4 separate regions of the Homo sapiens genome follow, and regions 2, 3 and 4 are each linked to region 1. Evidence: fine-mapped expression QTL. A gene starts in region 1. Each other region holds a variant in brackets. All regions are shown on one strand. Distances are between the middles of the regions.

Region 1 (8,235 bases):
TGGCATTCTTCTTGACTGACACAACCACATGCTCTTCTTGAAGTCACACTCCCTTGATCTTCCTCCTAGAGAAGGAAGATCTATGCCTCTCTTCCAGACCTTTGGCGAATGTTGATGGTTTGGCAGCTTGACAAGGTAAGCAGCTTGAACCAGGTGGGCTGAACCAAGAACAAGCAGGACATACACTTTGTCTCATTAGCATGCAAACCCCAAAGGAAAACAGCGATCAAATTGCTAGGTGGCTAAGTCCGCATGTAGTATCTAGCCCTCGAGTTTAAATATTATGTCTAGCCTAATTTCCTAACAAAGTATTTCTGAATGGAACCTTGCACAAAACATTTTCTGGCTACGCAAACTTTACATGTAACTTTGTTATGAGAGATAAAATATTCCTTTTTTCTTTATTCACCAAAATTTCACCACGGGTGCTATGGGAAAGGGAGTATTCAGGGTTCACTGAGACGCCCTAGAAGTGGGTACACCATGGTCCTTGCCTTCAAAGTTTCTTATTGCCCAAGAAATTACTTATTACATTTCTCTAGATATCAATTGTCTATCGAATGCATACAATTTGAGAATTGGATTACACATTTTGAGGTCACTTTGTTCTTCTTTCCTTTTCTTTCTTATTTTTAGAGACGGTCTCACTCTGTTGCCCAGGCTGGAGTGCAGTGGCACAATCAGAGCTCACTGTAACCTCAAACTCCTGGGCTCAAGCGATCCTCCTGCCTTGGCCTGCCAAAGCTCTGGGATGACAGGCGTGAGCTAAGGTCATTTCTGTGACTCTAGAACTCTTGCATCACACATACCCTCCACAGAGCACAAAGCTAATGTGAAAGGTTATTGGCAAAATCATTTAATAAGGCAGGAGATGGCTTGAGGTCAGGAGTTCAAGGCTGCAGTGAGCTGTGTTCTTGCCACTGCACTCCAGCCTGGGTGTCAGAGTGAGACCCTGTCTCAAAAAAAATAAATAATAAAATAAATAAATAAATAATTTAATGATGTATTTGTGAATGGTATTGTGTTAGATGGCTTTCAAAACATGTTAAATCACCAGAAATTCTGTCCTTTGAAACCTGCAAGTCTCCTCATAACTACCTAAAAATACCACACTATGCCCCTATCTGTCCCTCACATGGTGCTATTGGCCTCTGCACCCACCCACAGATTGCTGCTTTCCTAAGGCGGAGCCTCTCCTAACAACAGGTATCCATCCCCTCTTCCTCTAGGGTCATTCAGCACTCTGTCATCACTAAATTCAGTTTTTTGGCAGTTGCAGCAAGCCTATTGTCTTGCATTATTAATATAAAATTAAGTATAATATAGCTATTATGAAACAAATAAATGCTATGGAAGCACTGAGGTGGAAGGATGAATTTGAATTAGGAGGATCAGGAAAGCATCAGGGAAGAGAGGATTTTTGAGTCTAATTGTTTTCAAGGGCAGGATCCAATAAAGGAGTTTAGGTTGGGTGGTGGTGAAAGGCAATAATTGATGATGATGGTAAGCCTTCAAGCCTGGCCAATGAAAATTTGTTAAATAAAAGAACTTCCAGCTGGGGTAACCGAGTGATATGAATGCCATTTCCAATATAATACAAGAAATAAAGTAACTTGTGGATGGGGAAAGATGTCAAACTTGGCTTTAGATATCTTTTTTTTTTTTTTTGAGATAGGGTCTTGCTCTGTTGCCCAGGCTGGAGTGCAGTGGTGCAGTCATAGCTCACTGCAGCCTCAGTGATCCTCCTGCCTCAGCCTCCCAAGTAACTGAGACCACAGGATGCATACCACCATGTGCAGCTAATTTAAATTTTTTTTTTTTTTTTTGGTAGAAATGAGATCTCGCTATTATATCCAGGCTACCCTTGAACTCCTGGGCTCAAGTGATTCTCCCATCTTGGCGTCCCAAAAGTGCTGGGATTACAGGCATCAGCCAGCATGCCCAGATGGTTTTAGACACTTTTAAAAGATGCCTGTGGAAAAATGATGTACAAATGTGCAACCAGGCATTTCTCTGGGGTCGGGGAAGAGTTTATGAGTTACTTGCAAGCACTCTACATTTTCTATTGTGTTGTCTGGTTTACAAAGGGTTTTCATTGCCATTATCTACTATTGATTTTGATTCTAACAAACATCCTATAATGTAGGTAGGGGAGGATTATATTACTAGGTTCAAAATAGTTCCTAAAGTGACATTTGTGTCTGATGATAGTTACTGTTAACATAAAGAACCCGAGGCTGGGAGAGGTTAAGTGATTTGCTCAAGTAAGTGGGAGAGCTACAGCTCAGTCCCCGTGATGTCTCACTAAAAATTTAGGTTTTGGGCTTTTTTAAACCACTAAGAGCAGTGATGGTTGATGCTGGAGAAGCAGATATCATTTTGGATGAAAGCAAGCAGGAAATTACGACGAGGGGACTTAAAAAACAGTCAAAGAAAGAATAGGAGCAAATGAAGGTGACCACATGACCTCCCCTCAACCCCTGAGGAGACTCAAGATCCTAAAGGGATAATGGCCTGTCATCCTTCATCTCCCTGACAGGACCAAGCAGTCTGCCAAGGGCACAGAAGGTATCTACTATATTTGAGTGGAGTAATAATGACAACAGACAACTTACAGCGGGTCCTCAAATACTGTCATTTTGTTCAATGTTGTTTTGTTATAATGTTGATGAGAAAAAAATGGATTTCTAGCCGGGACCACTGTTTGTATTTGCAGGTTCTCCTCGTGCCTGCAAGAGTTTTCTTTGGGTACCTTGGTTTCCTCTCACATCTTAAAGACATGCACGTTCAGTTCATAGGCTTGTCTACATGATACCAGTAGTTTTTCTTTTCTTTTTTTTTTTTTGTTTTAAGAGACGGGGTCTCCATCTATTACCCAAGCTAGAGTGTAGTGGCATTATCACAGCTCACTGCAGCCTCCAACTCCTGGGCTCAAGCAATCCGCCTACTGCAGCCTCCAGAATAGCTGAGACTACAGGTGTGTACCACCATGCCTGGTTAATTTTTGTATTTATGGTAGAGATGGGGTTTCACCATATTGCTCAGGCTGGTCTCCAACTCCTGGGCTCAAGCAGTCCACCTGCCTCATGCCTCCCAAAGTGCTGGGACTACAGGCATGAATCACTGCCCCCTTCCTAAATGGTCCCAGTTTAAGTGAGTGTAGGGGTGTGTGTGTGTGTGTGTGGTGTGTGTGTGTGTGTGTGTGTGTGTGTGTGTGTCTTGCAACAGAATGGCATCCTATCCAGGGATGGTTCCCACCTTTTGCCCAAGCTGAGCAGCTGGGATAAGGCTCCCACTATCTGTGACCTTGAACTGGAATAAATGAGTTGGAAAAATGAATAAATCCGTGAAACAAATGACTGTAAAATAAAAATATGTAAGTGTACATTAATCATAAAAATGCACGACAATAAATGAGATAGGAGTGCACTCAGCTACCATATTTGTGATTGTTTTTGAATTTCATGGTAGCAGCAGGTCCTACAGGCAACTTTTGCTTTGCAAACACTTATTCCTTGACTTAACCCAGCACCACAGCAACCATCGCTCACTTAATCACTAGAAATTTGGCAAACCATTATCTTGTTTTTATCAATCTTTAAAAAATGTAGGTAGGCCAGGTGCAGTGGCTGGTGCCTGTATTCCCAGCACTTTAGGAGGCCAAGGTGGGCAGATTCCTTAAGCCCAGGAGTTCGAGACCAACCTGGGCAGCATGGTGAAACCCCATCTCTACCAAAAATACAAGAAGTTTATCCAGGCTTGGTGGTGCGCGCCTGTAGTCTCAACTACTGGGGAGTCTGAAGTGGGAGAATCACCTGAGTCTGGGGAAGTAGAGCCTGCAGTGAGCTGTGATTGCACCACTGCACCCCCAGCCTGGTTGACACAGCGAGACCCTATCTCAAGGGAAAAAATAAAAATAAAAAAGAGGTATAGCTCACATTTATTTTAATGTTTAATATTAGAAGTGTTTTGAATTTTTACTTTGAAGTTCGGTGATGTTTTTGTAACCGGAAATAATGCTGTAGGAACTTAACTCTTTTTTTATATGTCAGCCTATGGCAAATTTGGTTTTGTTATATGTTGTTTTGCTTAAGGTGACAGTTTCCAAGAACCTACTCCGTGAGGACTGGTGAGCTGGGTCAGAGTAAATAGCACAGGATGACGACTGCAAGGACGATATGGGGGCAGCAGGGTTTTAGACATACTTGGAATGGCAGCTTCCTGAGGTAGGCCAAGTATTCTCAGCATAATAAGGGCTACATTTAGGTGTATCTGGAGGAAGACGGTGAACAGATTTCCACGGACGGTGAGTGCACTGGAAAACAGGCAGGGATGGCAAGTACCATAGTGATGGATTGGAAGAAGGTGCACTTTGGGGCATGATTCTACTGGTTAAGCCAAGGGCTCTCGATGAGGTCCGAGGTTCCTGCCCCGGGCACGGAGTGGGTTGGCAGTGACAGCCCAGCCTATTACGTGGGAGTCTCCCTCTTGAATGGCTCCAGGAGGCCCATATCGAGGGTCTGAAAGGCCAGACGGTTATCCGCACAAAAGTATTAAGTTCATTTCAGGGACTGACCCGGCAATGTGCCCGGGTCCTTCCCCTCGGTGCTGGGAAGCCCTGGTCTCCCTGCAGCATTTCACACCTGGCTGGGTCTCCTGACTCGTGGCGTGGGTGAGTGCATGAGCCTCCCTCCTTCGCCTGATCGACGCCTGGGGGCTCCTCTCCCCAACCTCCTCACTCTGCCCACTCTGTCCTCTCCCTCCTTGGGGAGCGGCAGGGGACGCCTAGCCGGGGTCCCCAGGCTCCCGCTCGCAACCCACGGCCTCCTCCGCGGGCAGGGAGCGAACGCCCGGAGGTCGCCCGCGCACAGGGGGCGGCCCGGCTGCAGCGGAGCCGGGGCGGGAAGGCGCAGCCTAACGGTCCAGCTGCCGCGCCCCGCGCCCCGCACCCAGTGCCCCGCCCGCGGCGCCGCAGCCGCCTCCCGCCTGCCCGCCCGCCCCCTGCGTCATGACGCCGGCGCCCAACGCGGAAGCCGCTCGCCGCGCGCCGGGTCCAGCCGCGGGCTGAGCGCGGATCCGCGGCGGGCGCAGGATACGGGCCGGGGCGCGAGCCGAGCGCAGTCTGCCGGGCCGAGCGGGCGGAGCGAGCCGAGTGGGGCTGAGCGCGCCGGCGGCGGCGGGCGGAGCGGAGCGCGGCGCGCCGGGGCCGCCGCCGGGGGGATGCGGCTGCCTCCCCGGGCCGGGGTGTAGAGAGGGCGGGTCCCCGGCCTCGGGAGCACGGCGGTGGAGGGGACATAGGAGGCGGCCATGGCGACCCCCGGCAACCTAGGGTCCTCTGTCCTGGCGAGCAAGACCAAGACCAAGAAGAAGCACTTCGTAGCGCAGAAAGTGAAGCTGTTTCGGGCCAGCGACCCGCTGCTCAGCGTCCTCATGTGGGGGGTAAACCACTCGGTAAGGGCTCAGCTGCGGCGCGCGGTCCCCTTCCTCCTCCTCCTCTTCCTCCTCGTTCCCCTCCTCCTCCGGCTGCAGCTGCTGCGGGGCGGGGAGCCGGAGTCAGCCCTGGACCTCCGGCTGCTCGCCCGCCTCGAAGCCCCCAGCCCCGCGGCGCGTGCCCCCAGCCCTCTGGGCCGCCCAGGCACCACCACTTGCGTCCCCTTTAGATCTATGGCCCGGTGCGGGTCGGGGGTCCCGTGTGCATGTGAGTCTCACGGTGGGTGCCAGTGCCGCCCCCGGTCCGCCCGCCCGCCCGCAGGTCGGTCCCCGCAGCCTGGGAGGTAGGAAGTTTGTGCGGGGCACGGCGCCTCGGCTGTCAGCCCCGGCGGGAGCTGCTGGGGGCCGGGTCCGGGCGACCGCTACCCGGTGTGGGGGCCGCGCGGCGCCCGCGTCTTCCGCTTGCGGGCAGGTGTACCTGTCCCGGGCTGGGCGCGTGCGAGCCTCCCACTGGGGCACTGGGGCGAGGATACCGGAGCGCGAGCAGATTTGGGGCAGCAGCTTTAGTGCTTAGGTCCTTTCTTTTTCCTTTAAAGGCAATATTACTGGGCACAAGTCGGCTTTTTGGCAAAGCAGCAGCCGATGTAAATATGGCTCTGGCGTCGGGCGGCATCCCTGCGCTTCTCCCGCATCGCCCTGCCGCTGTGCGGGCTGGAGAGCCCTTGGCGGGGAGTCTTCCTCCCTTCGTCGCCTCCCCCCACTTTGGGGAGTCAGGCAGAAGTCACCGACTGCGGAAGGGCGGCCGGGGCGGGGACAGCAGGCGGGGGTCCCGGCGGGCGCGGGCGGAGGGGGTCCCGAGTTGGCCGCACCCGCTGTGGGGGGTGTGGGAAAGGCTGGAGAACGCGTGGAAAGGTTAGCGTCACGCACAGTCGGGGATTGGAGGATGCGCCGCTGCGGGCTATGCGGACTGCGGTTCGAGGGTCTGAAATAGCCTCCTGCTGATCTGACAGCGAGAAACTCCTGCAGTTTTAATCCACTTCGATAGGATCAGGAAACATGATCGGAGCTGTTGGCTCAGCCAGGAAAGTTTAAACGAGCTGTGAATTTTGACCATGACCTTAGCCACTGCAGTCACTTAGCATCTGGGGAAAAGTGTAAGTTCGCTTTCCCTGCTTTTGATTTCGATGGATGTCTGTATGTCCTTTTCAGCGTAATGGAAATGACAGAAAACCATGCTGGTTTTTCGGAAAACACACACACAGACACACACACACACACACACACACACACCCTCAATGTAGTGAAGTTGTTTAAAATGCCTAAAAGCATCGTTTTTGTATTTTTCTTCCCCAAGCTGAGCAGGGGGAAGGGCAAAACAGTATCAGGATCGATCGTGTTTGCATGGAGTGAGTGTTTTTGGAAAAGTTGAGAAATGATTATTTTTATCCAGCTTAATGACTGACTCACTGAAGTTCATTTTAACTTCCTGGCAACTTCTTTAGCTATTTGGGAATGTAAGTTGTTACAAGAGCATGCATTACTGCACCAAAAACTCCTCTCTCAAGTTTTATTACGGAAAATGAAATGCAATTTTTCCTAAGTAATAAGTTTACAATGTAGAGTTATGTATAATTTTGTTAAGCTCTTTTATTATTTATGTTAGTAGTTTTTGGGTCCCTTATTACTAGAATAGAAACTTACAATTTAAAAAAAGGATGAATACTGTAGTGCTTACTCATATTTATGGTGCTTTTATCTCCTTTGGAGTTCTGGTGTTTTGGTCAGGAGAGTGTTTCTGTCTCGGGGTTTAATTTAGTAAGGTAGTGTCAACAATATGCTGCCGAAAAAGAGTGTGCTTTCTGGGAACTCGTCTGAATTCCAGTTTGCCTTAAAAAATCTTGTAATTGTGTATGTTTTACTGTAACCACTTACGTTGCTACCTTATATTTATGAATTGCTACATTTGTTTTAGAGTTTCTTGCTAATTGGAAATATTTTGAAACTACTTAAGTGTTTCATAGTGTATGACTTGTAAATAGTACATTTGGTGTTATTTTCTTTTGCTCTCAAGAGAAGTTGGCAGTTCTAAGTATCCACAACCAGAGGAGTGAAGTTTCCATTTCATATAAATGTAAGCATGTTACTCATTCAACAGATATATATTGGGCACATACAGTGCCAGCTACTGTGGGAAGAATTGCTAAAACACCTCTAATATTTTTATCCAACTGTCTTTATTTTGAGGGCTCTGAGTTGACATAAGAAAGGTCTGTTTCACAGCCTTTTTTTTCAAAATGTCTATTTTCTTTACTATATTATTTTTGAAAAAAGAATGGAGGTGTAATATAAACATGAAATCTAAAACCCTTAGATGCCATGTATTTCTGGTTTGATTTCATTTTAGGTGACAATGTCTGATATTAGATAAATGTTTTATATGACCTTCTGTGCACCAAAGTTTATAGTATAATGTGAGAATAAATATGTCAGCAGTCTTAAGAACAAACAAGCATGGTGTTGTATACGAGCATCTTCCACATACTGTGGTAAAACGCTCATTGAATCTGCGCTTTAAGTTTTTCTTAAATTCTAACTGTTGACCTTGGGCATGTTAAGGTCAGGTTTTGGCATCAGTGTTTGCATCTGTGAACTGAGGTTGTTTGGATGATTTCCAAGTCTAACTCAAGATTCTGTTTTTTCAGTCTACTAGGTGCACAGTGTTATACTAGGATTTGTAGAATACTATATAAAAGTTGTCTTACTATTATAACCTTCCAAATGCAGCAACATTCAGGGAATTTTCAA
Region 2 (8,235 bases), 90 kb before region 1:
AAGAAGATATACAAATGGCCAACAAACACATGAAAAAATGCTCAACATCACTAATTATCAGGGAAATGCAAATCAAAATCACAATGAGATATCACCTTACTCCTGCAAGAATAGCCATAATTTTAAAAAATCAAGAAATAACAGATGTTGGCAGCGAGGTGGTGAAAAGAGAACACTTTTACACTGCTGGTAAGAACGTAAACTAGTACAACCACTATGGAAAACAGTATAGAGGTTCCTTGAAGAACTAAAAGTAGAACTACTATTTCATCCAACAATGCCACTACTGGGTATCGACCCAGAGGAAAAGAAGTCATTATATGAAAAAGAAACTTGCCGAGTGTGGTGGCTCACACCTGTAATCCCAGCACTTTGGGAGGCTGAGGTGGGCAGATTACTTGAGGTCAGGTGTTCAAGACCAGCCTGGCCAACATGGTGAAACCCAATCTCTACTAAAAATACAAAAAATTAGCCACACATGGTGGCACACGCCTGTAATCCCAACTACTTGGGAGTCTGAGGCAGGAGAATGGCTTGAACCCAGGAGGTGGAGGTTGCAGTGAGTTGAAATTGCACCATTGCACTCCCAACTGGGTGACAGAGCAAGACTTCATCTCGTCAAAAAAAAAAGAAAAAGAAAAAGAAACTGCACACTCATGCTTATAGCGGCACAATTCACAATTGCAAAACTATGAGACCAGCCTAAATGCCCATCAGCCAACAGTGAATAAAGATAATGTATTATCTATGATACCATGGAATACTACTCAGCCATAAAAAGGAACAAAATAGTGGCATTCGCAGAAAGCTGATTGGAGTTGGAGACTATTATTCTAAGTGAAGTAACTCAGGAATGAAAAACCAAACATTTTACGTTCTCGCTTATAAGAGGGAGCTAAGCAATAAGGACACAAAGGCATAAGAATGATATAATGGGCTTTGGGGCCTGGAGTGAGGGCAAGAAGGATGGGAGTGGGGTGAGGGATAAAAGACTACACATTAGGTACAATGTGCACTGCTTGGGTGATGGATGCACCTAAACCTCAGAAATCACCACTAAAGAACTTTTCCATGCACCAAACACCACCTGTTCTCCCCAAACTATTGAAATTTTAAAAGAGAACAGTAGAGCAGGTAATTACGTATAAAAACAATATAAAACAAACAAAATACCAAAACAGCCTACCTCCTAGGATTGTTATGAAGATTTATTGAAATAATATATATGAAGTGCTCCAAGCCTGGCATATAGTAAGTACTCAATAAATACTCTTTTTAATGTAAATAAATAAATAAAAAATATTTACTTCAGAAGAAAACACAGGAAAATATTCTTGTGGCTTTGGGTTAGGGCAAAGATTTTTTAGATGGGGGATAAAAAGCACAAACTATAAAGGAAAAAAACCTGTTAAATTGAACTCCATCAAAGTTAATAATGTTTGCTTCTTGAAAAATACCATTAAAAAATGAAAAGACTTCATTTTGGGAGGCCAAGGCGGCCAGATCACTTGAGGCCAGGAGTTTGAGACCAGCCTGGTCAAGATAGTGAAACCCCGTCTCTACTAAAACTACAAAAATTAGCTGGGCATGGTGACACATGCTTGTAATCCCAGCTACTTGGGAGGCTGAGGCACGAGAATCACTTGAACCCAGGAGGCAGACATTGCAGTAAGCTGAGATGGCACCACAGTGAGCTGAGGGTGCACTCCAGCCTGAGTGACAGAGCAAGACCCTGTCTCAAAAATAGAAAAGAAAAAAAGAAGAGACAAGCCATGGATTGGAAATCTGTATTTATATATGAATATAAAATAAACATAGATATGACAAAAGATTTGTACCCCGAATATAAAAAGAACTCTTAAAACTCAAGAAGAAGAATACAAATAATCCAAATGGAAAAAATGGGCAAAAAAAGTTTTGACTACACATTTACGAAATAAAAATAAATGAATGGCCAAGAAGCACACAGAAAGATGTTTATTTAATATCATCAATCAGTAGAGAAATACAGATTAAATCTAAAATTAGACAACAAAATGCATCCATTAAAATGGCTAAAATTAAGATAACACCAAGGGTACATGAGGATGTGGTGTGACTGGAACCCTCATCTATTGATGGTAAGAATGCAAAATGCTGCAAATCTTTGGAAAAACAGTTTGACAGTTTCTTTAAAGTTTAAATATGCATTTACCATATGCATGTACCAACATACCAATGTACCGACATTTTCATCCCTGGATACCTACCCAAAAGAAATGGAAACATATGTTCACGTAAAGACTTTCATGTGAATGCTCACAGTAGCGTTATTCATAATAACCTCCAAAATGGAAACAGCCCAAATGCTTACCTATGAATAAACAAAATGTGATGTATCCATACAAGGGACCCAGCAATAAAAAGAAATGAACTACTAAAATGAACAACATGAATGAATCGCAAAAACACTTCTGCTAAGTGAAAGAAACCAGACACAAAAGAGTATATATTGTATGACTTCATTGATAAACACTTCTATAAAAGCAAAACTACAGTGACGGAAAGCAGATTACTAGTTTCCTTGGGCTAAGGACTGAAGTGGGGGTAGAGACTTACTGCAGAGGGGCTCAAAGGAAGGTCTGAGAGTGATAAAACTGTTGGAAACCTTCTTGTGATTATAGTTGCACAACTGTGTGCGTTGACCAAAACTCATCCAACTGTATACGTAAAATGGACAATTGTAAATGACTTAGAACTCAATGAAGTAAAAAAAAAAAAAAAAATTCCTTCACAATCTAAATCATTTCCTTAAGCTAGTTATCTACACATGGTAGAGTTTTCTACAGTGTTAAGTCTGCTTTTTATTGCTTTTGATTAAAGTTTGATCTCTGTGTGTGTGTGTGTATGCATGTGTGTGTTCCAAATATCCTCTTTCATTGAGAACTAAAAGTATTAACTAAATTATTCTTCTGTTTCATGAACAAGTCTGTGTCATAGGGGGAAAGGTTTTTCTCTAAGCATTTATAAATTTACTGGAGAATTTTTCCAGAATTCCATTTGTTTTCTCTTTTCTCATTCTAGAGCTTGATGTGTTGCTCTTTGATAACTATGAGAGGCTCTCATAGTTGAAAGGCTCTCTCCAAAGCCTGCAAGTTTGGAAGGAAAGGCTGAGGGCGCATGGAGGAGTAGGTCTGTGAAGCTTGGGACTAAAGAACACCAAGCAGAAAGCAGGCCCAGGCTGGAGGATGGGACACCACTCCCCTGAAAATGGACAGCAAGACTCCTCCGAGTGTGGCCAAAGAACATCCAAGCAGGGCAGTGCTTTTCAAGACCTGTCACCAGACTCAGAGAACAGAGATTGGAGCTGGTCAAGGTGAGCTTGGGCCAGGGCGGGGAAAGGGAAGACAGAGGCAAGGGAAGGTGCCGAGGCAGCAGGGGCTGCCTTTAATTTCCCCGGAGGGCAGAGAATTGGAGACATGCCTATAGAATCTGGAACAGTTTCAGTTCTTCTGCTTCTCACAGTGGCTACTAGACATTCTTTCCTTTCCAGATGGACACATCAAAGGCTGGGAGAGGAGACTTCTGCTCTTCCCATGCCTTGACCCCTCTTCTAAGTACTCCAAGCACTCTCTGTTGGAGCTCCTGAAATCCCTAAGCAGGATGAGTTCCTTGATGAGATCCCAAGGTACACATGTGCTTAAGGAGACTTGTTTTTTCAAAGAAAAAAAAGACAACAACAATGTGAACAGTGTCCTTACATCTCTAAAAATTTTTTTTTCCTTTGGTTCTCTTCATGTGGGCAATATATTCCTAACAAAGGGATAATGAAATAACTAATTTTCTGAGTTGCATCTTAGGAGCATCTGCTATTAGAACTGGCCTGCTAAAATCTCATTCTTCCCTTCTAAATTCTGTCTTCATCTCCATTCCTGCCTTCTTTCTCATTTCTTACACCAAGTAATTGTACCAGGATGCACCCTGGTACAGGTGCATTCACTGCAATGTTCTGCTCTGGAGGACAGAGCCCACGTTAAAGGGCATCTGTGTGTTTTCAATGCATCTTGTCCCTTTAGTGACCATTCCTCAGCTATTGCTAAGTTTCATTTAATTGAGCTGGAGTCATCATCTGGGAAAGGCAGCGAGACCAACAAGAATACGAAAGCCTCTCAATAAACCTTCAAATGTAGGTGGGAAGGGAGAAATAGGACTGTATTAGAGGATAATTTCAGAAAGTAGGCAGGAACAAAGGACTTGCAGAACAAACAGACTCCAAGAGAGTCATGTACGAAGCAGCACCTGCTGATGACTGCAGAAATGAAGAGACGGTTATTATCTGAATACTCCAATAGACTGGCATATTGTTCTGGCCCAGTGCCAGGCGCACGTGATGATCTGGCTAGGATTATTAGAGCTCTTCTGTTAAAGCACAGATCACATGTGTGCTGAGAATGTGTTCTTTCTCTGGATTTGAGGTGACAGACAGCCATATCACATGCCATCCCTTTTTCCATCCTGATTCCAGCCAGGCAGTAAACCAAATCCTCACCCAGTCTGTCTCCACCATGTGGTTTCCCTAGCCAGCTGAACAAAATATTTTCAGAATGTGGAATGTAAACAAAGTTCCTACTGTTAGCAATTCTGTGTCATTTACTTGTGGTTTATTTTATTTTACTTTAAGTCACATTTAAATTCAAAAGATTGCCAGCCTGCATGATGCATGTAAACAAATCAGAAATATAGATTAGAATTGCAACTGATTAGTTAGCTGTGAACGTGTCTGTTCAAATGGAAGAAGGGAGAGGAAAATCTATTATG[C/G]TCCTGGGATATTGCGTCTCCAAAGGAAATTCATTTGTGAGAAGGGCTTTAAAAGCAATGACTTCCGTCATTTGTGTTTTCTACACACTGGTTACTGTAAAAGCTAATAGAATACCTAGGCGGAATCTCTGCTTGGGCTCACGTAACACAGCTTCACAAGGAAACACAGGGAGCAATTGCAAGAGGGAAAAGGAAGACCTGCAAATACACCTTAGCAGACGGTGATCACAAAATATGTGTCCCTCGCACTACTGGAGATGTTTTTCAAGAAAATTCTATTTTCCAGGTTTCTTATTTTTGATTGTTTAAAAGTATATGTCTACAATGCATGATGCTGAATGATAAAGGTTGTATGAACCTTCTGATATTCACTAACAATCTGAATCAAAGTCGGGCATGGTAGCCTCAGCCCTTAGGGAAGCCAAGGCAAGCAGATTGCTTGAGCCTTTTAGTTAGAGACCAGCCTGGACAACACAATAAGACCCTGTCTTTACAAAAAAATAAGAAAAAAAAAATTAGCCAGGAGTGGTGGCATGTACCTGTAGTACCAGCTACTTAGGAGGCTGAGGTGGGAGGATCACTTGAGCCCAGAAAGTCAAGGCTGCAGTGAACTATGATCACGCCACTGCACACTACTGTGGATGACAAAGTGAGACCCTGTCTCGAAAAAGAAAAAAAAAAGGAATCCAAATCAAGATTTGCCTTTGTTTATACATTTCATCTAAAATATCCTCTGTCTTCCAAATCAATAGGGAGCTAAAGTGGGCATAACAACTTTACTATTAGGTAAATATTAGTAAAATATTTACCCACAGACCTACACGAGTAATGTTTTCCTAGCACAGTGCCATGAACTATACATTTTCTAAAATCTTGTTGACACTTTAATTACACCATCCACCTTGTTTATATTATTTGGAAGCTGGTAAGCTAATGTGAAAATTAACTGAATGATACATTTCTTTGAGTTCTTCTTGGTATCTTCTGAATTGTGGTCAAGTAGCAATCCTAGGACCCTAGATGAGCCAGGCAGCAGCAGACGCAGATGCCGGTGAACTCACTGCATTTCATCTTCAGTACTACCTTCTTCACTCAAAAGTAATGGCTCACCCAAGGGGTCTTATTACACTTTCTCAAGTTATAGCAGCTGTATCTTGATTCACAAAAGAATCTTCCTCAGAATAAAGCCCCGTGGAAAAAGGTTGTGTGCCCTACAAGATTAGGCACCTGGAGGATTGGAAGAACAATCACCTTGAACCACACATTATTTGGATCATTTGGCAAAAGGAAAAGCAACTTCCTCTAACGGGTGAGATTTGAAAAGTTTTCATCAGAGAAGGAGAAATAGATAGCTCAAGAATGGGAACTTAAGTCATGCGAGAGGTAAGAGAGAGGATAATCTGTGTTTTGAGATCAGTGGCTCTGCAGATAGATTTTGGTTCCAAGCCTGAGCATTCCTACATAGAAGAGTAAAACTTCATTCTTAAATAAAGCCCTGGAGCCAAATAGAACATTCCTGCAGGGTGACAAATAGAAGCTTAATCTTCCCATACATTTCTGATTTCTTTTATAAACAAAAATTTCAACTCAATCTTTCATTAATTTGTTCTGAAAACAAATCATTTATGATCAGTTGTGGAATATTTATTGTCAATCTTGTTGAGTTACTGTAGCACATTTGTCTATGTTTTCTGTGTCCAGAATCTCCTATTTTTGGCTGTATGCCCCACTTTTTGTTTCTTATAGTGCATGCATGAACAATATGGAAGTCTGACTTTAATTAGGCATTCACTTGTAAGCCACATCTTGAGCATTTCATTGAGAACTGTTTTCATTGTGAATAATTCTTACTGAAAGAAGAGTGTTGCTTAGCTCTAACTTGAATCTCCTTGATCTAAAATTAAAACCATGCTTGTCTATTTTATTATGAGGAGAAACATTCATGCTTCCTACTTATAATTTCAACTTGGCTCATAGAAGAAATGGCAACTACCTACACCCCATCAAAGAGTTTTGGGGAGGGATATTGAAGAGCTTGACATCCATTTGACTGCCTTTCACACATGATGTAGTGTTTCTACATCTGTTTTGCCCAATCGGTTTTGCCCAAATTCTTCATTTCCTGATAGACTAGAAGAAACCATGTTCTTTGCTGCTTCCTGTGCCCTGAGTGTGACAATGTGCAGTAAGACCTACTTGGTACTCCTCCCCCAAGGGTACTCTAGGGACTGGAAATATTAAAAAAAAAATTGGTGGGCCAGGAGCCCTACTTTGGCCCCTAGTTGGAATTACGTATCCCTAACATTTTTCCTGCACTGGAGATTTAAAAAAGCGGGAGAGAAGATTTGTTGATCTGGCCATTTTACGAAATGTGCCTGTTGATCCCCATAAGATAGGTCTGCATTGAGTGCATCCATCAGAGGTTGAAGAAGGTAGATGTTGCAGCCTCCAACATCTAACATCTATATATTGTTGGAGAGATTATCGTTCTTATAATTGTTGTACATGCAAAGTAAGGCTGAGTTAGCCCTCAACGAAATCTTGACTGTGCACCCACAGTGTTAGGCACTTTGTGAGATCCTAAAGAGAACAAGCCCGGCTGGGTGTGGTGTCTCACGCCTGTAATCCCAGCACTTTGGGAGGCTGAGGCAGGAGGATCACCTGAAGTCAGGAGTTTGAGACCAGCCTAGCCAACATGGTGAAACCCCATCTCTACTAAAAATCCAAAAAATTAGCCGGCCGTGGTGGTGGGCACCTGTAATACCAACTACTCGGGAAGCTGAGGCAGGAAAATTGCTTGAACCTGGGAGGTGGAGGTTGCAGTGAGCCAAGATTGTGCCACTGCACTCCAGCCTGGGCAAAAAGGCAAGAAGGGCAAAACTCCATCTCAAAAAACAACAACAACAGCAACAACAAAAAACAAACCCTGCTTTCTAGCCCCAAGATTTATCTCCGTTGATTCAAGCAACTTTACTATTATCCTTAGGCATTAGTTTATAAGATATTTATAATTTGATAGCTTCCCTTGTGGATATTTCTAGTTTCTAAAACATAATTCTGAGTGTGCACAGAGAATTCTGCTAGGGTCTCATCAAAATGAAATATGACTTCCTGATCTTGCAGAGTCAAAATTTTCCAGTTGTGTTAAACTTTAAAAATAGCTTCTTTCTCTAAACAACAGGCCCCTCTTTGGCTGTTAGTATAGCATCTGTGAGTAGATCATGCTCTCTGCCATTCTCACACTTCTAGAGCCATCCAGCTGGGAACTGCTCTCCCTGACTCAAACACAGATGGGTCGTGCATCTTACCACTTGAGCCACCTATTTTGCTATTTAGTTAAAGAACAGCACACAGGTCCAGGGCAGAGCTATTGAAGAATTTAGATTAAATGTTACTGGCTGGTTCACACTGTAGTGCTGTATAGAATTTTGGGTATTA
Region 3 (8,235 bases), 68 kb before region 1:
CCCATCTCCTCTTCCAAGGAGTAAGCCAATATTAACAGTTTTATATGTGTATTTCTAGACCCATGTCTATGTTTTTTATTGAGGTAAAATATATATAACATAAAATCTACTATTTTTAAGTGCACAGTTGAGTGCATTAAATACAAAAATGTGGAACTCTTCTTGAATTTGTGTGTCATCCTTGTGCAGGGGCCAAGCCAATTTTGTCTGTATTATTCCAATTTTAGTATATGTGCTGCTGAAGCAAGTACTCCATGCATTTTTAAACATACATGTTCCAATATTATAAATGTAACCATATTGTACCAAAAAAGAAAATGAAAAAGAAAGATGTTCCTAGTAAAATGAGAACAACTATTTCATCACCAGCAGAACTGCAGAAATGTTAAAGGAACCTCTTCAGGCAGAAAGAAAATAACTTGTAAAAATTTTAATTCACACAGTGTAATAAAGAACACTGGAAATGGCAAATATAAAAACATGTTTTTCCTACTTAATCTCTTTAAAAGATATTTGACTATTTCAAGCAAACGTAACAAAGTCTGTGGATTTCATTACCTACATAGAAGTAAAATATATTACAACAATGACACAGAGGACAGGAGGAGCAGAATGAAAGTATGCTGTTGTAAGTTTCTTACATGTCATGTGAAATCATATAATGTTATCTGAAAGTAGGCTGTGATTAGTTAAATATTGTAAACCCTGGAGCAACCACTAAAAAGAAACCTTAAAAAAGAAGAATTGCTAGTAAGCCAATAGTGGAGAGAAAATAGAATCTAAAAATAATTTGATTAATATGAATGAATAAAGGAACAAAGGAAAAAGAAAACATAAAATAGATGGGACAAAGGGAAAACAAATATCAATATGGTAAATTAAAACTCAACTATATCAATAATTCTATTGAATGTAAGTGGTCTAGACAGTCCATTAAAAGATTGTCAGATTGGATTAAAAAAGTAAGACCTAACTATATGTATGTTGTCTATAAGAAACTGACTTTAAATATAAAGACATGGACAGGTTAAAAAAAAGAATAACAAAACATTCCCCAAAATGTTACAAAAAAGTAAAAGAATGTCATGCAAGCATTAAGCAAAAGTAAGAGAATTGGCTGTATTAATATTATACAAAGTAGATTTCATATTGGGGATCATAATGGGAAATGGATCAGAAAACACAACAGTGCTCACAGAGCTTCAAAATATATGAAGCAAACACTGGTAGAAGTAGAAGAAGAAATAGACACAATTACAGTTATAAACTTCAACACTCCTCTCTCAATAATTGTTAAAATATGTGGGAAGAAAACCAGTAAGGATGCATGAAACTTGAACAACACTACTAACTACTTAAATTAATTGGCATTTATAAAACACTCACTCAACAACTGCAGAATAAACATTCTTTTCAAGTGTACACGGAGAATTTATCAAGATAGACCATATTGGGTCCATAAAACAAGTCTTAATACAATTTAAAGGATTAATTTCTAAAATATATTATCTGACACCAATAAAAAAATCACAAGTGAAATAAGAAAATATTTTGAAAGGCATGAAAATGAAAGCATATTCCCACACATATAAAAAGTGTGGGAATCATTTAAAACAGTGCTAAAAAGGAAATTTATAACTTTTTTTTTTTTTTTTTTTTGAGACAGAGTCTCACTCTGTCACCCAGGCTGGAGTGCAGTGACACAATCTCGGCTCACTGCAACCTCCACCTCCTGGATTCAAGCGATTCTCCTGCCTCAGCCTCCTGAGTAGCTGGGACTACAGGCATGCGCCACCATACCCGGCTAATTTTTGTATTTTCAGTAGAGATGGGTTTTCACCACCTTGGCCAGGCTGGTCTTGAACTCCTGACCTCAGCTGATCCAACCGCCTCGACCTCCCAAAGTGTTAGGATTACAGACATGAGCCACTGCACCCGGCCAGAAATTTATAAGTTTAAATACTTATGTTGGAAAGTAGAAAACTTTATAGTTAAATGTCTACATTTCCACCTTAAGAAAATAGAAAAAGAAGAGCAATTTAACCCAAAGTAAGTGGAAGGGAAGAAATAACCAGAAATCAATAGAATAATAAATGGACAAACAGTAGAGAAAATCAATGAAAACAAAAACCAGTCTTTGAAAACACAGCTGGTAAATCTTTAGCCAACTTAAACAAGAAAAATAGATAAAGAACACACAATTACAAGTACCCAGAATGAACAATTTCTATACCCTACTAAAAGGATAATAAAAAAAGTTATGAATAAACTTAAAACAATAAATTCATCAAATTAGATAAAAATACATTCCTTGAAAGATCAGAACAACTAAAGCTCACTCAAAGAGAAATAATTTAAACATCCCTATTTATATTAAAGAAAGTGAAGTTGCAGTCATAAACCTTTCTACAAAGAAAACCCATAGATTCAGAGGCTTGACTGATGAATTCTACTGAATGTTTAAGGGAGGAATAAAACCAGTCCTGCACAAAAGCATAGAAAGAAGACTTTCCAGTTCACTTTATGCGGCTAGTTTTACCCTGATAACACTAGAAAAAGAAATTTAAAAGGTAGAAAACTACAGACCAATATTTCTTATGAACACAGACACAAAAATCCTTAACAGAATTTCAGTAAATCAAATCCAGCTACATATAATAAAAGAATACATCATGAACAAGTGGGGTTTATCCTAGAAATGTAATATTGAGTCAACATGCAAAAATCAATAAATATAATTCATCATACTAGCAGACTAAAAAGGAGAAACTGTATGATTCATATAGTTTCATCTTAAAAGGTGCAGAAAAGCATTTGACAAATTTCAATACCCATTCATGATTTAAAACAAACAAACAAAAAGCCCTTAGCAAACTAGAAATAGGAGAAAACTTTCTCAATGTGATAGAGGAAATCCACCAAAAACCTACAGCTAATGCCATAATTTAAAACTGAATTATTTTCTCCTAAGATCGGGAAGAAGGCAAGATGTTCCCTCTTGTCACTTCTATTCAGTGCGTGTTTCCAGTTAATGTTATAAGGCAAGAAACCAAAATAAAATTCCTATCTTTGGAAATGTATATGTAAAACTGTCACTATGCACCAGCAATGTGCCTGTTGATACAGAAAATCCAAAGGAATCTACCAAAAAGTAACCACAGCTAAGAAGCAAATTTAAACAACGTCACAGGATACAAGGTCAACATACACAAATCAATTATATTTCTATATGGTAGCAACAAACAATCGGAAATTTACATTTTAACAATATGTTTAAAATGGCATCACAAAACATGATTTATTTAGGAATAAACATAACAAAATAATGATGGTATGTATAGTAACCAAATCAGTCTTTTCCTTTTCAGCAGTTTTCAGTTATCTACAGTCAACTACAATCCAAAAATATGAAGATATTTTGAGAGACCACATTCACACAACTTTTATTACAGTTTGTTATAATTCTTCTGCTTTATTATTAGTTATTGTTACTCTCTTACTATGCCAAATTTATAAATTAAACTTTATCATAGGTAAGTAGATATTAAAAAAACATAGGATATATAGGGGTCAGTACTCTCCACAGTTTGAGGCATAGCTGGGGTTATTGGAACGTGTCCTCTGCAGATAAGGTTGGGCAACTGCACAGAGAAAAGTCCAAGACTTTGCTGAGATAAATTAAAGAATATCTCAATAAATAGTGAGACACACATGTTCATAGTTCAGTTGACTTGGTATTGTTAAGATGTCAATTCTCCCTAAATTGTGAGTCAGTGCTGTCTCAATCAAAATCAAGCGAATTTTTTATGTAGAAATTTATATAGAATTGCAGGCGGGGCGCAGTGGGTCACGCCTGTAATCCTAGCACTTTGGGAGGCCAAAACAGGCAGATCACCTGAGGTCAGGAGTTCGAGACCAGCCTGGCCAACATGGTGAAACCCCTAAAAATACAAAAATTAACCAGGTGTGGTGGTGCGCTCCTGTAATCCCAGCTACTCAGGAGACAGGCAGGAGAAACTCTTGAACCCAAGAGGCAAAGGTTGCAGTGAGCTGAGATAGCACCACTGCACTCCAGCCCGGGTGATGGAGCGAGATTCCATCTCAAAAAAA[G/AG]AGAAAAAAGAAATTTATGTAGAAATGCAGAATCCTAGAATAAGCAAAATAATTTTGGAGAAAAAAAAAGAACAATCACTGGTCAATTTCAAGGCTTACTATAAAGCTAAAATAAGACAGTGGGATGTTAGCATAAGGACAGACATATAGATCCATGAAACTGAGAGTTCAAAAATAGGCCCACGCATAAATAGTCAATTGGTTTTCAGTTTTCAATAAAAGTACCAAGATATCAAAAGGGAAAAGGTGATTCTTTCTTCCTTCCTTCCTTCCTTCCTTTCTTTTTCCTTCTCTCTCTGTCTCTCTCTCTCTTTCTTTTTTTTTTTTTTTTTTTAGACAGGGTCTTGCTCTGTTACCTAGGCTAGAGTTCAGTGGCATGATCACGGCTCGCTGCAGTCTCAACCCCTTGGGCTCAGCCTCCTGCGTAGCTGGGGCTACAGGTATGTGCTGCCACACCCGGCTGATGTTTTAGTCTTTTGTAAGGGGTCTCCCTATGTTGCCCAGGCTGGTCTCCAACTCCTGGCCTCAAGTGATCCACCTCAGCTTCCCAAAGTGCTGGGATTACAGGCATGAGCCACCGTGCCCAAAAATGCCCTCAATGTCTGACACAAAATGTATTCTAGAAAAATTGACACAAAATGTATTCTAGACCTAAATGGAAAATCTGAAACCATAAAACTTCAACAAAACAGGAGGGAAAACCTTTGTGATTGGGGCAAAGATTTCTTAGATGGGACAAAAAGTGTACAAACCATGCATTAAAAAATTAGCACATTGGAGATATCATCAAAATGTGAAACTTCTACTCTTCCACCTTATTTTTGTTGTTGTTGTTGTTGTTTTTTAGACAGAGTCTCACTCTGTCACCCAGGCTGTAGTAGTGTCGTGATCTTGGATCACTGCAACCTCCACCTCCCAGGTTCAAGCAACTCTCCTGCTTCAGCCTCCCGAGTAGCTGGGATTACAGGCACCCGCCACCAAGCCTGGCTAATTTTTGTAATTTTTTTAGTACAGATGGGGTTTCACCATGTTGGCCAGGCTGGTATTGAACTTCTGACCTCAAGTGATCAGCCCACCTCGGCCTCCCAAAGTGCTGGGATTACAGGCATGAGCCACTGCACCCAGTCTCTTCCACCGTATGTTAAGTGAAATAAGCCAGGCACAGAAAGGCAAGTACTATATGATCTCACTCATAGGTGGAATCTAAAATGTTGTTATCATAGAAGTAGAGAGTAGAATAGCAAGCAGTTACCAAAGGATGGGGAGGGGTCTCAAAAAATAATACAGTTAAGAAAGTGAAAAGGCAAAACACAGATTAGAAAATAAAGGACTTACGTCCAGAATTTGTAAAGAATCTCAAACTTCAATAATGAGGCACAGTCCTTGATTTTTTTAATTGGTAAAAGATTTGAATAGACATTTCCCCAAAGAAGATGTACTAATGGCACAAAAAGCACATCTAAAAAACACTCAACATTATTCATCAGCAGGGAAATGCAAATAAGACCACAATGGGCTACTGCTATACACCGTCTACAATGGCTAAAATTGTTTGAATTGGCAATATCAAATGTTGACAAGGTTGTGAAGCACCTGGGACTCTCATACACTGCTAATAGGAATGCAAAATGGTCCAGCCAGTTTGGAAAAGTGTGTCAGTTTCTTATGAAGTGAAATATACATTTACCATATGATTCTGCAACTCTATTCCTAGATATTAACCCAAGATAAACAAAAATGTATGTTCACTTGAAGACATAAATGTTCATAACAGCTCTCTTCATAATAATCCCAAACTGGAAGCCCATCAAAGGTCATCAGCAAGTGTATGGAAAAGCAAATTGTAGCACACTAGCTGGCAATATAAAGGAACAAAGTGATGCATGCAACAACGTACCACAATACATTATATTTTGCTTGTTATTGTTTTTACTTCCCCTCCCACCACACTTCTACCACTGTAAACTTGAAATCAGGAATCGTTTCCTTTTTTCCATCATATTTCCAGTGCCTAGCACAGAACATGATACTTAGTGAGTGCCCAGTAAATATTTGTTGCCCATGAAGTTCTTATTTATGCCAGATTTGCTTGTATAGTCTCTGGCAATGGGTTCTTTTCTCATGCACTCTGTCTTGGGGAAGACAACTAATTCATTTTCCTATAAAAGTACACTAACTCGGGCTGGCCGCAGTGGCTCACACCTGTAATCCCAGCACTTTGGGAGGCCGAGGCAGGTGGATCACCTGAGGTCAGGAGTTCAAGACCAGCCAGACCAACATGGTGAAACCCGTCTCTACTAAAAATACAAAAATTAGCCGGGCGAAGTGGCAGATGCCTGTAATCCTAGCTACTTGGGAGGCTGAGGCAGGAGAATCACTTGGACCAGGAGGCCGAGGTTGCAGTGAGCCAAGACTGCACCATTAACTCCAGCCTGCGCGACAGAGTGAGACTCCATCCAAAAAAAAAAAATACACCACTAACTCCTTGTTTGATTACATTAATGTGTGTGCGTGCGTGTGTGTGTGTGTGTGTGTAAAATAAAGCTCCAGAAGTGAGCTCTTTTTTGTGGCACATTTCAGGGACTTCCAGCCTTCTGACTTCGGGATGACTGGTTGGCAGAGTTTACAGGGAATGAAAGCCCCTGGACTCCCACTTCCTCCTCCTTTCCTCTTGATCCACAAGAGGTTTGAGCCAAGGTTCTCTCAGCCCTCCTTTTTAGGCTCAGGCGCTGTGCCAGCCCCAGCCCAGTCCCAGGGCTGAAATTATTTGCTCCTTTGCCCAAGCTTTAGGAGCCAACTTGCAATTTGGCTTTTACAATATGTTCTGACTCTTTCGAGTGTGGTTTGGACTCATCAATATTCATGAGCTTGCAAAGAAGAGGTTCTCATCCCCAGGGAGACTGTGTGGTGGTAGAAGGACCCTTTCCTCAGTCTCACTATGGCACTGGCCAGGCTACCATCTGCACAGAGAATAGCTGTACAGATGCTTCTTGAGGAAATCCTTACGCTTCTTCCAGATGGAACAGACCTTTCGTCCTTGAGTTTGGATATTTCGGCCTCCAGAGATGAGTACTCAGAAGTCCATGTCACCGTAGAAGATACTAAGTTTTTATCTCCTGGGGACTCTGATGTGTTTTTCATTCAGTTTTTTAAAAATGTGTTCCCAGGTCCCACATCCCACAGCAGCTAAGAAGAGATGCCAGGGCAGAGAGCAGTGTCCTCAGTGACAGAGGTTGCTGCACTTCACTGGGCTGGCAGCCAAGGAGATTGCTTTTTCTGGGGAGTGGAATAGATTACTATTTCTGCTTGTGTGGGATTTTATTTCTGGTTAGGTCATGAACTTCTGATGCACACATGTCTTTGCTTTTTTTTAATTCAACTAATTCATTTTCCACTAAAAGTATACTAACTCCTTGTTTGATTACATTAACGTGTGTGTGTGTGTGTGTGTGTGTGTGTGTGTGTGTGTGTGTGTAAAATAAAGCTCCAGAAGTGAGCCCTTTTTGTGGCACATTTCAGGGACTTCCAGCATATGAGGGCCTCCTTCTAGCTACAATAAGATTATAATGCTAGAATGATTCTTCACATTTTAGTACACACTGTGCTAGGCATTGCGTTAGATGTTTTGCAAGGTTTATATGCTTTAATCCTTACAACACCCATGTGTGGTAGACTAGTATAGACCCACTTCACAGATGAAGAAACTGAGGTTTATTAAGACAAACTGATTTGCCCAAAGTCACCTCCAGGAATGACAGAGCTGGCTTTCAACCTCAGCGATCTGATGCCAGAACCATTCCTTTTATCTCCATGTCTTGAGACTGATGATTCAGTTCTCAGAATAAGACTATCCAACAGAGAGGAAGGACAGCAGCCACCTCTAATTCCATGTTATTGGCTGCAGATGAGCCACACACTGCTCTAAGGTAAGGGTCAAAGTGTCTGGACTCTGAGTTAAGGTATTGGTTAATTTTTTGCAGAAGTGACTGCTTTGTCTTTCTCAAATATCCTCTAACCTAGACCCACAGGAATTTGACAAAGGTTCCCATGGGATGAAGGGCCTGTGTGGTTTTCTAGGAGCCTGTGAAGAACCGCAGCTCTGGTGGGAGGACAGCCTTCTGCCCT
Region 4 (8,235 bases), 120 kb after region 1:
GGCTAGTCTCGAACTCCCAGCCTCAGGTGATCTGCCCGCCTTGGCCTCCCAAAGTGCTGGGATTACAGGCGTGCCCCACTGCGCCCGGCTGAGTAAATCCATTTTTAGAGTCATAAAAGATCCAAGGTAGAGGTCTAATTCAGCCTGTTCTCTCCCCAAGCTTATTTTCCATCACTTCATAGACCCGGAAACTAAGGCTCAAAGAGACTAAATGCAATCTACAAGAACTGATGAATGTTCTAGATCTCAGACCAGTGCCCTCACCATTACCCTGTGCTGCTCAGGTTGGAGTGCGGTGGTGTGATCTCGGCTCATTGCAATCTCTGCCTCCCAGGTTCAAACAATTCTCGTGCCTCAGCCTCCCAAGTAGCTGGAATTACAGGCATGCACCACCACACCTGGCTGATTTTTGTATTTTTAGTGGAGACCGGGTTTCACCACGTTGCCCAGGCTGGTCTCGAACTCCTGGCCTCAAGTGATCCGCCCACCTCAGCCCCCAAAGCGCTGAGACTACAGGCATGAGCCACTGTGCTGCCTTTAAAAACACATGTCTGCTGCATGCCTTGGAAGAAGGCAAGAAAGTAAATGATAATAAAAATACATAAACAATTTTACTTTATTTTAAAGGCTACAAAAAGTCTATGATTATGATGACAGAAGTTTAGTCTTATCTTTGTAAATCGCCCTTTTTGGTTAGTTCATAGAAAGCTTTAGACAGGAATCTTAGGCACATTGCTTGGCTCCATTGTACACTAGTTTCTTTATCTTGAGGTGGGAAAAATGGATCTAGCTTTTCCTCTCTCACAGGAATATTGTGAAAATAAATATGAAATAATGAGTTGGATTTTTCCAGGCCTTAGAATCATTCCAAGGATCAGGTGTTTTGTATAGAATTGCATGAACTCTTTTGATTTCCTCCTTATCAGATAAGGCTTTTAATACACTTGATTTATGTATTTTTATATTCATAGTGATATGAAAGGTACATTCTATGTTTTGACACAGTGTTCCTAACTTCATTGGTTATTTCATGTTCATGAACCTTAAAAATATTCAGATAGTGTGGGTTGGGGCTACTCACGTGGATTATTAAAATGGTGATTTGAGACAGAATCAAGATTCGAATTTTTAAGGTTTTATATCCCAGGGTGAAGACATGGCTGATATCCTAATCCAGTGTCTGCATATATGATTATAGTAATGCCTTTGAAATTGAAAGAAAAGGCACAAACTGGGGAAGAGGTAGTATCTGAGCTAAGGAGTTCCTACATTATTTGCTTTTACGTTTCCAGCCCTTTATAAACCCATATGTTGCGCTGGGCATGGTGGCTCATGCCTGTAATCCCAGCACTTTGGGAGGCCAAGGCAGGCAGATAGATCACTTGAGGCCAGGAGTTCGAGATCACCCTGGCCAGAATGGCAAAACCCTGTCTCTATTAAAAATAAAAAAATTAGCTGGGCATGGTGGCACATGCCTATAATCCCAGCTACTCAGGAGGCAGAGGCACGAGAATCACTTGAGTCCAGGAGATCAAGGCTGCAGTGAGCCAAGATCGCACCACTGTACTCCAGCCTGGGCAACACAGTGAGAACCTGTCTCAAAAAATAAAAATAAAAAACCCTGTACATTGTCCTGGTACTGGTACATAGTATTATTAAACCCTTCTTTAATTAGTAAAGTAAATGCCATGAATTATTATTCTGAACTATAAAGTTTCCCATTTTAATCGAACTAGAGGTGTAGAGAATATAATGGGAAAGGCATGAGTGCCGGTAAGTCTGTAATTATAATGTACTTAATACGCTAGACTTTACGTGCTGCATGCCAGTAAAACACAGGGTAAACACCATTCTGTAGACCTTGGTTCTCATGTGTGGTCTGCAGACCCACTCCAGCAGCAGCATCTACTTCTGAAAATGCCCCACCCCTGACCTGCTGGATCAGAATCTGCATTTTCACATGATCCCTGGGTGATTCAGTTGCTTGTTAAGTTTGAGATGCACTGACTATGCAGCTTTTGATTCACCCTATTGGCCCATGAGAGGACGTTATACTGTCCTATCTAATGTGCATAAGAAAACGATCTATGAAACTGAGGCTGCTGGAATTCTATCCTGTGCTGAATACAGTTCTCCTTTACTATTCCCCATCCCCCAAAAGTTGTTTTACACGTATTGTCAGTTTGACAGAGTTTAAGGTCTGTTCCACTTGGTCTGCTCCACCTGGCTTTCATAAACTTGATTGTTCCCACTTTGATTTTATGCCCAAAGATAATCTGCAATCTTACAGTTCCTAGAGTTCTTGTTTTATTTGAAAGAAATACCCTTTTGCAAATTAGTGATTGCAAGAAAAAAGTAAGACCACTAACAAAGAGCAATAATTGCTTTTTGGGGGCTAGCATTTAAAACCCCACAAGGGGAAATTCACTTTGATTTTCTTCCTTTTTGTTCTAAGTGGGAAGTAGTATAAAGGAGATCTTGTTCATGTTTTAGGAAAGAAAAATGTAATTAAGAATTAAACTCTTGTTAATGTAGGCATTTTCATCCTGAAAGTCATTTTTATCATTCTCAGTCTATCTAATAAATTTTAGTTGTCTTAAGAATAACTGAACACTGCCAAGTCTTGCTATTTAAAGTCATTGGGGATTATGTAGATTTTTTTTTTTCCTTCTCTCAAGTTTTCTAATAAGCTAAGGAAAGCAAATTCAGTTACTTGGTGGCCTGGACTCTGCATCTGGCAGGTGCGCCTGCTTGCCTTCAGATCAAGGTGTGCTATTGCAGAACGTGTGATCCACCACAGGGGGTGCCAGGGTGGTGAGGTGAGAATCCTGGAAGATGAAGATTTGCTCATGGGCCACTTTTCTCTTCAGGCATAGGTAGGGCCTGCGTAAACCCCTGCACTGCTGCAATGGATTCTACCTCAGGTGGTTCAGTCCTGTTGATTTCATCTAGAAAGGAAGGAAAGGATAAAGAGACTGGAATATACTAGACAGAAAGGCACTCTTTCTTTTGCAAATTCATGGGCAGAGCTATCTATCACCTGCCCCTCTGAAGGTATCTGTGTTCCCTTAACTTGACAGCATTTGGCCACTGAGGCCTTTGAATGCCCACTTCAGAGAGCAAGTTAAAGAGAGAAAGCATGTTTGCCTTTGAATCCCACACAGGCCATCCCGCAGGGCCAGGCAAGGAGTGAAAGTCACTGCTCAGGAGCAGTCGGCAAGGATGGAGACGAGACTTTCTGGGGGCCAGGGGTTTGCTAGACCCCATGGCTGGACGGCCATTGTCAAGAGGTTGGGGCAAGGAGGAGGCTTCTTGGAGGATGTAAGAAAGAGGAGATCTGAACGGAAGAGTCACATGGGAGGAGAAGGGTAGACCTACCTAGCCAGTGTCACTAGCATGAACCAGATCTTGGAGTGAATGATGTCAGCAGAGCCCCTACTCAGAGCCCGTCCTTGTCCACCCTCCAGGAGATCAGTAGTTCTCAAAAATGGTGGTAGGGAGTGGAGGATGGACCAAATTCAAATCGCCTAAGGAGGAGCTGTTTTAGAAGACACTCTCCCAGGCTCCTGCCTCCTCCTCCTGGGGCACACAGGTAGCATAGTCTGCAAGTTAAGTACTTTACTAGTTGAGTAGTTTACTAGTTGAGAGTTTGGATTCTGAGCCAGCCACACTGGAGTCAGAATTCTAGCTCTTCCCTTATTAGCTATATGCCCTTTGCCCAGATACTAAGCCTCTCTTATTCCCATCTCCTCATCTGTAAAATAGTGATGATAGCAATCGTAACCATTGCATGGGAATGTTATCAGAATTGGGGGAAATAATCTGTGCAAAATGCTTGGCACGATACCTGTCATATAAGGAAATGCTCAGTGACTGTAAAATTTTCTTTTATGACTGGAACCTAATTTTATTCAGAAGAAAACTTTGAGAGCTTGTCCAACTCTGAAAAGAACTAAGTGATTAAAGTTACTTTGATTATAATTCTAGACATTAGCCTGCTTTAAAGATATTAGAATCATAGTACAATTCAAGCTGTTTTCATTTCATCTGAAAGGCTTGCAATGTGAGTTATGATGCATGTAAAAATGTTGTCATCCTACTTATCAATTTATCCCACACACAAATGTTTTTGAAAACTTGCAATGATGACAAATTATCTGGGAATCGGAAAGCCACACCTTTAACTAGTTATCTTCCCCCGCCTTCCTTCCCCTCTTACCCCACCCGGGAAGAATTCCCTGACCAGGAGCGCACCCCTCCCCAACGACTCCCAGGCCCGCAGTGGAGCTCGTTTTCACACTTCCTACGACAAAAGATACATCATCAAGACTATTACCAGTGAAGACGTGGCCGAAATGCACAACATCCTGAAGAAATACCACCAGGTAATTTTTCTTGATCTTTATTTGAAACTCCAAGAAGATTAACATGCGTAGCGATTTCTCACCAAGGCCAGAGATTTAAATATATAGTTAGAGAACAAGAAGAACACATTTCACATAAACATCTCCTCTAACCCTGTGTTCTAAAATTACAGTGGCCAGATTCCTGGCAGTTAACCTTTAGGCATGCTTGTGCTATAAAGGTCATTCATTATTTGTATAACACTTTTAACCTAAATACTCTTGT[G/A]TAATAGTTTCAGTTATCACTACTCTGATTTTAAAATCATTCAGCTTAAGATTTGGCAACTTTGCAGAAGTTTTTGCCTGTGCCAGAGATTAGGTGTTGACCTCTGAGTATGTATCTATTTACACCTCCGAATCCTATTTTGCTGTCACTGGTTCTTCTGTCCTGGCCCCAGCAGGGCCCACGCCATTCACAATCTGCTACGGAGCAAGCTCTCTGATTTTAGAAGGTGGGTGTTGGTCTGCTTCTTGCCCCCTTTTCATCCCCGAGCATAATTCCATTGTAATCACTGGAGGTAAAGTAGACCATCCTTGGGAGCAGCAATCTGTCTCTCCTGGAGTAAATTCCAGCACAAGCTTCTCTGGTAGAGCACATGTTCCCAAGGCCCAGCCCGCGCTGTGAGAGGCCTCCTTCACCATGGAGTATAAGAGCATGAAGTCCAGCGTTGGACAATCCTGGGCTCAAATCCCAGCCAGGTCGCTTACTAAGCATGTGACTTCTGGTCTTGGTTGTTTTTTAGAGACAGGGTCTTGCTCTGTTGCCAGGTTGAAGTGCAGTGGCGTGATCACAGCTCACTGCATGCTCAACCTCCTGGGCTCAAGCAGTCCTCCCACCCCAGCCTCCCAAGTAGCTGGGACCACAGGTATGCACCACCATGCCTGGCCAATTTTTTTAAGTTGTGTTTTTATAGAGGTGGAGTTTTGCTATGTTGCCCAGGCTGGTCTTGAACTCTTGGGCTCAAGCAGTTCTCCCATCTTGGCCTCCCAAAGTGCTAAGGTTACAGGTGTGAGCCTCCACACCCTGCCTGGATTTTGAAGCCACAGTTTCTTTGTTTATACAGTCGGGATAATAATAACACCTAATATGGATTCTAAAGATTAAATAGGAAATTGCATGTCAAGTGCTTAGCACAGTGTCTGTCACACACTAGATACTCAATGTGTGGTGGTGGCCATAGCATCGCTATTATCAAGATAACATCCATGGTATAAAAATAACGTAACAACTAAGTCACTTGGAGAAATTGTAGTCATATGGTATGAACATGTCTGCTGTTGCAACATCCCAGGAATCATCTTCACAACTGGTGTTTAAAACACATACACACATTGTTGCTTTTAGGACCTTAGTCAGCTTGAGCTGTCATAAAAAACCGTAGACTGGGTAGCTTAAATGACAGAAATCTATTTCTTACAGTTCTAGAGGTTGAAGTCTGAGATCAAGGTGCCAGTATGGTCAGGTTCTTCCTGGTTTGCAGACAGCCAGCTTCTCACTGTAGCCTCACGTGTGTTGGCAGGGTCATGGTGGGTGGGATAGGATCAAAAGCACTCTTCTGTCACTTCTAATAAGGGCACTGATCACATAATGAGGGCTCTAAGCTCATGACCTAATTAGCTCTCAAAGGTCCCACCTCCTAATACCATCACTTGGGGATTAGGGTTTCAACGTAAGCATTTTGGGGGACACAAACTTTCCATTCATAGCAGAGTCACACGGTGTTTTTAACTTAAATAGCTCCCAATCCCCCAAAGGTAAAAATTGGCTGTCACAATGGGTATTCAAAATAAAGTGCCGCAGGTCCTGAATATATTAATAAAAGGATTCTCGAGTATAAACAATCACACTTACTAAGTATCTGCTTCGAAGGCAGCACTGGCCTGGACTTGTGAGCTCCTAGATGTCTGTTTAAACATCCCTTTAAAAGCATTACTTTATGTTCATGCATGATGCTCTAATATCATGGATTCTTTCTTGGCAGTTGCTTATTCTTCCAATCTTTGCAAATATGATCAATTGCATTTTGCTTGCAGTGAAGTCTATAAAAATCTTTGAGCTATATTCTGTTTCTTGAAACTTGGTACTGCCTCTAGTTTGTTTTCTAAAATCATTAGCCTCTAAATTCATTTAATATCTAATAAATCTTTTATAATATCTATTCCTTTTGAAATTTGTTCTACACTGCTTATGCTACTGCCTCTTATTCTACAGGAAATTTTAAAGTGCCAGGATGCTACCTGTGAGGGGGAAGACATGAGGCTCTGTTATCTGAATGAATTGAATTACAGGTTGCAGCTTTGAACTCTTCACCTTTTAAACTGTCTACTTTTTCATTTTTTCCCCTCTGGAAATTGATATCATACTTATGCATTCTCTTTATACTTTCTTTCAGTTGTCTCAGAACATTCAAAGCGAAGTGATATCTCATGACTGATGAGAGCATATTGTTCTAAAAAATGGCCATGATACCATGCTAATAAAATGTGACACAGAATTGAAGTACCAACTTCTTGATGACAACTTTGAGTTTAGCATCCTTTGACTTTACAAAAATCACGATTTGAAATGTTTTCTCTGGGTTAGTTATTGTAACCTAACATAGGGATTTGACATATCCCCAGTGTTACATAAAATAAGTGTGGGATCAAAATAAGTCTATTGACACCTCCCAGGGGCTTTAACAGTATAAAGACTTCCTTCTGTTCCACTGCTACAAAATTGTTATCTTATTGGTGAGTTCTTTATTCAGAAAAGTCTCCTTTATCCAACATCTATACTTTTTCTTTTTATAAACAGAATATTTTAAATATAATTTGTAGGGTCTTAATGATTGGGAATCACATTATTAATATAAATTATTTAAAGGGCACTAAGTAGAAGTCAGGAGACATAGATCCTAACCTGTTAGGAACTGCCTCTTGGATGATCTCTGAACTCAGCTTCTGCACCTGCATTTCATTCATTCATTCATTTATTCATGTATTCACTCTTGACCTTATTCCAGAAAGGATTTAAGGTGGCCTTCAAAGAAGTTGGAAATACAAGCTAGAATAAATGAAAAAAAGAAAAGGAAGAGGCAGAAAGATAAAGGCACAAAATGGAGCCTGGAATGAGCGTAGATATTCATGCCAAGATGACCAGCATGCTTGATACTTTGAGTCTGTTGCCAAGGAGAAATGTAAGTGGTCTTGGTACTAAGATGCAACAGGGTTGACTCTAAGGAGTTCCCCACAGAGCGGACACAGGGACATCTGACCTGATAAAACAACATCCTTGCCACAAGCTGAGAAACATACAAGAATGTTAGAGAACTTAAAAAAAAATTGTCCGTATAGGCTGCTAATTATCAGTATAGGCCATGTATAAATACAGCCACAGTTGCAGCACCGTTTTGCTAATTTGTCCATTTTTAAATTACATTTAAACGAAAGCAAATTAAGAACAAGGAAATGTATAGGTGACACAAACGTTGACCATTAAAGGTGGACATGCCACTCATATACATCTCAGCAAAATCTCACATAGAAGAGGTTTTTAAAAATACAGCAGCAGTGAAGAGTAACAGTGTTAATTACATGATCAGAGAATTCCACAGAAACCTCATAAAAGGTCTCAACATTCACACAGCTTATTTGATACTGATCTATTCGGGGTGACCCCTGCTAGGCTCACTGAGGGCAGGTCTGGGACCCTGCTCAGGTTGGCAGGTGTTCATGAAGGAAGATGCAGTCCGCCGAGTCAAACATCACACCCGCAGCAATTAGCAAAGGCCACACCAGTGTGTAGTTTACATTTAGTAAATGCTGTTCTACAGAGAAAGGCTATAATGCA

Alleles and levels. Positions count from the first base shown, and alleles are read on the strand shown. Sizes are in standard deviations (SD) of each study's normalised expression. Not every link is listed here.
For the expression in testis of the gene that starts at base 5,056 in region 1, G is the low allele of the variant in region 2 and C is the other (large effect, 1.1 SD a copy in GTEx).

What was found. PIP is the estimated chance that this variant, and not a neighbour inherited with it, causes the effect. A credible set is the group of variants that fine-mapping cannot tell apart.
Region 2: its variant is the best candidate, but not a certain one, in a credible set for the expression of PIP4K2A in testis (GTEx, PIP 0.87).
Region 3: its variant is the best candidate, but not a certain one, in a credible set for the expression of PIP4K2A in atrial appendage (GTEx, PIP 0.82).
Region 4: its variant is the best candidate, but not a certain one, in a credible set for the expression of PIP4K2A in nasal epithelium (TOPMed, PIP 0.88).

Annotation. Positions count from the first base shown.
Region 1 is chr10:22,711,399-22,719,633 of GRCh38, reverse strand. PIP4K2A (phosphatidylinositol-5-phosphate 4-kinase type 2 alpha) reads left to right here and starts at 5,056. Exons shown (of 10, transcript NM_005028.5): 1 at 5,056-5,451. The coding sequence starts at 5,308. RefSeq lists enhancers at 4,194-4,801, 4,802-5,410 and silencers at 4,571-5,240, 5,541-5,620, 5,791-5,910, 6,211-6,320.
Region 2 is chr10:22,801,731-22,809,965 of GRCh38, reverse strand. No RefSeq gene overlaps it. Among named protein-coding and RNA genes, the nearest start is that of PIP4K2A, 91 kb to the right of the region's middle. The variant C/G (reference allele first, on the strand shown) is at 4,798.
Region 3 is chr10:22,779,409-22,787,643 of GRCh38, reverse strand. It overlaps the pseudogene RNU6-413P. Among named protein-coding and RNA genes, the nearest start is that of PIP4K2A, 69 kb to the right of the region's middle. The variant G/AG (reference allele first, on the strand shown) is at 4,111.
Region 4 is chr10:22,587,779-22,596,013 of GRCh38, reverse strand. It overlaps PIP4K2A (phosphatidylinositol-5-phosphate 4-kinase type 2 alpha), which reads left to right. Exons shown (of 10, transcript NM_005028.5): 4 at 4,233-4,385. Among named protein-coding and RNA genes, the nearest start is that of PIP4K2A, 120 kb to the left of the region's middle. The variant G/A (reference allele first, on the strand shown) is at 4,630.